Homo sapiens: one gene and its partner. The protein of the gene in region 1 purifies or fractionates together with the protein of each later gene. This does not show direct contact. Each region holds a gene or a part of one and is shown on either strand. Other genes may lie near its edges.

The links. The genes of interacting proteins can lie anywhere in the genome.
Region 2: the proteins of NID1 (region 1) and NXPH3 purify together in Homo sapiens (co-immunoprecipitation; one large-scale study listed by IntAct). This does not show direct contact.

Annotation. Positions count from the first base shown.
Region 1 is NC_000001.11:236,040,951-236,044,822, reverse strand, and holds part of NID1 (nidogen-1 precursor), read left to right. Parts: intron 1-2,530; coding exon 2,531-2,913; intron 2,914-3,872. UniProt on the Homo sapiens protein: Sulfated glycoprotein widely distributed in basement membranes and tightly associated with laminin. Also binds to collagen IV and perlecan. It probably has a role in cell-extracellular matrix interactions.
Region 2 is NC_000017.11:49,581,599-49,584,327, reverse strand, and holds the end of NXPH3 (neurexophilin-3 precursor), read right to left. Parts: 3' UTR 501-2,729; downstream 1-500. UniProt on the Homo sapiens protein: May be signaling molecules that resemble neuropeptides. Ligand for alpha-neurexins.

The DNA of each region.
Region 1 (3,872 bases):
TCCTTCACATTGACTAGGGGGAATATTCTTACAACAGAAATGGTGCTCTCAGGTTATGTTGTAGAATTTGACAAAAGAGGGAAAAGCCCAAATTGGATTTTGAAGATTAAAACCTTTCCTCTCCCATTATTCTTTAAAAACCAAGAGTGAATCCCCTAAAACCACCTTTTAATTTTATATCTTCAAATCTAGCTTGAATTCCTCTGCCCTTCACTTAGTGATGTGCTGGTAAATGCTTAACAACTGGTTTTATGAGGGCAGAGGAACCTGATTTATAGCGTTTGCCTGTTTCTGTGATGTAAATACTCCTACGATGGCCAAGTTCAAGTTATTAACGTCATGTCACTCATTGAAGAGTTCAGAAAACATGCACCATTATATATATTCTCACCATAAAGATAAAATAGGTTTAATATATATAATTTCAAGAGCATGGACAGTAGCAAAAGGATTAGAATATGATGAGTTTTGAATATTTTTTCCTTTTAAAAAATATAACTTGTTTAATTGGAAGTTCATGTAATTTAATTGTTTAGAATGGCTGTGTTTAATAACTGGCTTGCAAAATTCCTAAAACTTTAACAGCCAGCTCTCACAAGCTAGTCCATATAAGCTCCCACACACCACTGTCTTTACTTGAATCCCAGGCAGACAAATTGATTAGACATCCTATTTATGCAGGACTTTTGTGATTTATCATCCCCACCCCACCCCATTGTTTTGCTCAGTATTTTCCACTGAGTAATGTATGTCCCCTCTGTCCACCGTATAATATAATTATTTCATGTAATTTCTGATAGGAGCACTTCCAATCACAGACACAGAAGAATGGTAAAAATGGTGGAGGAAGAAGTAGAGATTAGGGATATTCTACTATATTTTATAGTTATAAAATGCTTTTGGATTTTGTATCTCATTTGCTTTTCACCATATCCTTTAAGCACCAAAGGTAAACTGAGACTAGTCCAAGATCTCACAGCCAATGGAGTTGGGATTTCTTTTTTTGTTGTTTTTGTTGTTGTTTTGAGATGGAGTCTTGCTCTGTCGCCCAGGCTGGAGTGCAGTGGCACGATCTTGGCTCACTGCAAGCTCTGCCTCCCGGGTTCACGCCATTCTCCTGCTTCAGCGTCCCGAGCAGCTGGGACTACAGGCGCCCACCACCACGCCCAGCTAATTTTTTGTATTTTTAGTAGAGACGGGGTTTCACCATGTTAGCCAGGATGGTCTCGATCTCCTGACCTCATGATCTGCCCTCCTCAGCCCCCCAAAGTGCTGGGATTACAGGTGTGAGCCACCGCGCCCGGCCCTGGAGTTGGGATTTCTAAAAAACCACGTCTGCAATGTTTTCACTCACACTTCTGACACCAAATGGGTGGGGTTTTTTTTCCCACACCAACCAATTCTCTGCACACCAGCCGGGTGTCCTACACTTCAGTTCAATTCTAGCACTGGCGTTACTGCAGACCCCACAGGTTAAGGGCTCAGTCCCACAGGACTGCCCCCACTTCAGATGCCAGTCCCAAGTCCTGTGTTTCCACCTGTACTTCTGACCAACCAGCTATAAATGGAGGGTTTCCATGGCATGCTCCTCAGATTTGATAATTTGCTAGAATGGCTCACATAACACAGAAAAATGCTTCACTATTACCAGTTCATTCTAAAGGATACAACTCTGGAACAACCAAATGGAAGAGAGGCATAGGACAAGGTATGGGTAAGGGGGCAGGGTTTCTATGCCGTCTCTGAGTACACCAGCCTTCCCGCACCTTGATGTGTTCAACCCAGAAGCTCTCTGAACCCCATCATTTTAGGGTTTTTATGGTGGTGTTATTTCATAGGCACAGTTGATTAAATCACTGATCCTTGGTGATTGACTCAATCTCCAGCCCATCTCCCCTCCCTGGAGGCAGTGGGGAAAGCTGGACATTCCAACCTTCTAATCATGCCTTGGTCTTTCTGGCCACCAGCCCCCATCCTGAAACTGTCTAGGAGCTCCCAGCCATCAGTCAACTCATTAGCCTACAAAAGACACTCTTATCACTTCAGAAATTCCAAAGGCTGTAGGAGCTCTTGTTTCAGAATGTGAGGACAGAGACCAAACATGTATTTTCAATTGTATCATACCATGTCATGGAAAGAGATAGTGGAGAGCATGAATGACTTCAGTCCTAAAGCCACTGTCAGTCCTATGAGCCACCTTAGCTCATAAGGTAGAGCATGTAACCAGCAATTAGGATGAGCAAGTTGAATTTTAAGTCCTGATAGTGTCCCTGGAGCACACTTCTGGAATGGCTGGGACTGAGCTTGTGCTAGTATTGTGCCCATTTGGACACAGTCTCACCAGACAGCCCTAGACTGCCTCAGCCACATGACGCCCAGACATGACGGCCAGTGCCCTTCCACTCTCCAGTCCTAGCTGCAGGTGATGGCTTGCAGACCAACACAGATCCTCAGGGCTCCCTCTGCTTGGGTAGTGGTGGCTGTTGGTGGGTTGCTGGCCTGTTTCTAAGAAGCCTGTCCTTCCTCCTAGGAGTAGTAACTCTGGGCAGCAGGGTGTCTGGGTGTTTGAGATTGGGAGTCCAGCCACCACCAATGGCGTGGTGCCTGCAGACGTGATCCTCGGAACTGAAGATGGGGCAGAGTATGATGATGAGGATGAAGATTATGACCTGGCGACCACTCGTCTGGGCCTGGAGGATGTGGGCACCACGCCCTTCTCCTACAAGGCTCTGAGAAGGGGAGGTGCTGACACATACAGTGTGCCCAGCGTCCTCTCCCCGCGCCGGGCAGCTACCGAAAGGCCCCTTGGACCTCCCACAGAGAGAACCAGGTCTTTCCAGTTGGCAGTGGAGACTTTTCACCAGCAGCACCCTCAGGTCATAGATGTGGATGAAGTTGAGGAAACAGGAGTTGGTAAGACCATTTAAGTTGCAGTTGGTAACGATCTTGGATGTGTGGGCTTCCAGACAGGCGTACTGCTGGGGAGATGTCAGTTGTGAGCATTACATGGTGGTTTGTAAAGATAAGAGCTTGGGAAAGTAGAGGCTGAACTCTCACAGCCGTGGAGCCTTGGTGTTATATGCCCAGTGGCTTCAGAGATGCTCAGTGATCTTTTGGGATTAGGACCATGGTTTTGGAGACTGTTGAGTGTGTCTTCTTTCAAGTTTCCTAGTATTCCGTTCTGTCTGTTTTAAAGAGAAAACGTCCGTTAGAATTGTTTTGAAAGTCAGATTTTCTTGTGATTTCTCAGATCAGAAATGTATTCATCCACCTGAAAAAACATTTTAGAAGTTCTTTTGGCTGTCTATGAAGCTTATCTTTGACATTTATTTCCTCTTGGTTTTGGAATTAGAATTGTTGATTATTTTTCTTCCCAGGTCCCGTCAGTTTCAGAGTTGGTTTGTGAAGATTAAAAAATATATATATATCAAAGTAGATACTCTTTAAAAAAAAATAGGGTCGGGGGTGGTGGCTCACACCTGTAATCCCAGCACTTTGGGAGGCCGAGGCAGGTGGATCACAAGCTCAAGAGATTGAGACCATCCTGGCCAACATGGTGAAACCCCATCTCTACTAAAAATACAAAAATTAGCTGGGCGTGGTGACACACGCCTGTAGTCCTAGCTACTTGGGAGGCTGAGGCAGGAGGATTGCTTGAACCTGGGAGGCAGAGGTTGCAGTGAGCCGAGATCATGCCACTGCACTCCAGCCTGGCAACAGAGTGAGTCTCTGCCTCGAAAAGAAAAAAAAAGTTTTACAGTACATTTTCTGGTCAACTATGTTATATCAGATTTTTGCTACATTTTGAGGGAAAATAGAACTCCTGGATGCTTTCATTTTTCTTATAAAAGATGTTCTAGCCAGGCACAGTG
Region 2 (2,729 bases), on another chromosome or scaffold:
CTGGTATGGTATTTCTATTCCACAACATTCCCAGGGACCAAGACTTCTTCCAACTCACTGCTCTGCCACCTCTAGGGTGTGGCTCTTACCGCCGGTCTAAGATGGCAGCAGTCTCGTACCTATTCCAGGCTGCAGGATAGAGGGTGGAACAAAGGGACGAAGAGTGCACATCAGCTGTCTGACAATTTCTGGAAGGTGCCACCTAAACCTTTGGCTTAAATGTCACTGGCCAGATCTTAGTCACATGACTACATCTAGGGAGGCTGAGAAATGCAGTAGTTATTTCAGGCAGCCACATGCCCAGCTAAAATCAGAGAATCCCATTACTATGGAGAAAGGGAAAATGGGTATTATGGGACAATTAGAAATCTTTGCCACATGCATGATGGGGTGGAACCAGGATAGGAACCTAGGTCTCCTACCTCCAGCCTGGGACCCTTTCCCCTGTCCACACCAGGAGCAAGGCCAAGGTTAACAACAACCCATCTTAGAAAAAAAAAGACAGGAGGAAGTAACATTTATTGAGCAACTCATTTAATTTTCCTAACAATACGCCAAGGTAAGCAAAGCCCTAGTTTTTTATCTAAGGAGGCTCTGGGAAATTATGTCATTTGTCCAAAGCCACACGTCTAATAAATTACAGACCCAGGATGAGGACCCAGCTATATCTTCCTGCAACACCTGTGTTGCCAGTTTATTGGCAGCCTCTGCAGTTCAGGAGGACCTAGCTTGTCCCTTGGGACCACCTGACCAGGTGGCCTGGGATGAGGAACTGGGAGGCCTTGAACTAGGCATCCTTCACTTGAATTATCAGGTCAGCCTTTGAGCCTGGGAGACCAACAGGAGACAGGGGCCCTATGGAATCACAACCCAGGTGAGTGCCAGGTCTCTGCTGGCATTTGTGCCTTGGTGATGGTGCCAGCTGCCACTCCAAGACTTTGGCATAATTGGCAGGTGCCGCCCCCACCCCATCTTGCCTCTGCCTGGCGGGGCTAATGGTGCCTCTCCTTACCCATCACCCCAGCCCCCGGTTCTCCTGGCAGTACCACAGGACTCGGAATCTTTGGAAGTAACATTTCTGTCTCCCACTCCCAGCGATGACACTGGATCACTTCCCAACACAGAGCAACTGTTTCATTGTGTCTCTACAATCCCTCCTGCACATACTCACTCGATGATCCCAGCACCTGGTCACCCCTCCCTGCCCTTCAGCTGCCTCCGTCCCCATAAACACTCCCCCAGGATCCCTGCCACCCACCCACCAGGTGCATCTCGAGCAATGGGCCTCGCCACCTGAATCTGCCACAATGCAAGGTCACCAGCATTCCTGCCAAGGATGGGGAACAGGGTGACTCAGTTCCCGCTTGCTCATCCCAGGAAAGGGAAGGGGGGAAGGGGGGGAAGGGACCTAGATATTCATTTGCTTTTGCCTTAAGCTTCATCGAGAAGGAGACTCGGGCATTGCTACCAGTTGACCTAACGGGTAATCCCCCTTATTAGCTTCACAGAGTGCTAGGAGATTCACCCTACTTGAGAAAGGAATGCTGAGACCCAGACAGCGCCTTTGAGCAAAGCTGAAGGGCAGAGGCAGCCTCCAGGTGCTCTGATGCCTAGGAAAAGGCAAGCTGTCCCCCTCCCATCCATAGCACAGTTCTTGCCCTCAGGGAGACTCCAGTCTGATGAGGGGAGGCATAGCTTCTGCCCTCAGGGACCCCCAGTCTAAGGGGCCATCCAGCCCCTGACATCAGGGTGTCCTCAGTCTGATGAGGGAGGCATGGCCCCCGGCCCTAGGTGTTCCCCAGCCTGATGGGGAGATCCAAGCTGTGTCCTTAAAGAACCCCCAGCCTGGTAAACTTGTCCCAGAGGCTCCACTGATGGAGGAGACAAGGCCCCCGGCAGCCCCCAGCTGGGCTGAGGGGTTAGGGTGGAGGACCACGGGACCGCTAAACGGTCTGAGGGCATTTCAGACTGCCTTGAAGGGCAGTGGATGGGGAAGGTCAACGGGTTGGAGTGTGAGTAGGACCTGGCCCTTTGGGGTCTGGGCAGAGTGGGGACAGGTTTCTTCAGAGGAATCTCCTGTGAGTGTGTGCATGGCAAGAGTGGGAGGCCAGCGCACTTCGTCGTGATGGTGGGGGGGCATCACCATGGGGACACTGCTCGCCAATGGGGCAGAGGTGACGTCTTCTTAGCCAGAGGAAGTTGGATGGACCCCTTGCCCTTGTGAGGACCAAGCGGGCACAGAAGTATCTGGCAAGAACAGTAGGGACCAGAGGGCTATTCCAAAGAATTAAGGTTTGGGAGGAAATCTGTTAGCGAAGTCCTAGCTGAGGAGAGCAGCCAGGCTACTGGGGAAGGTGGAAAGGAGGGATGAGGCGGCAGTGTGCATGAGGGTGAAATGAAGTTATTAAAATGAATCCATCCCTGGTGCAGGCAGAACTGTGTGCCAGGAAGGCCGGGCCCTCCAGCTGTCGCCAGCATCTGGCTCTCCACAGGAGGAGAGGAGCAGGAGGGGGGTCAAAGTGCCCCCAGTGCCTGCTGAGAGTTCAGCCAGGGGAGGTGGGGAGGGCGCCCAGGGCCTCTGGCCCCATTGCTTCCTCCTCCTTCCTGCAGTCTCCACAGCACTGTGGGAGGCTGAACGGCACACGGTGGGTGTCCATTGGTGGGCTGCTCCAGTGCCAGCAGTCTCAAGCCTCCAGGGTGGGGAGCGGAGGGTGGTCTGGAGGAGGGGT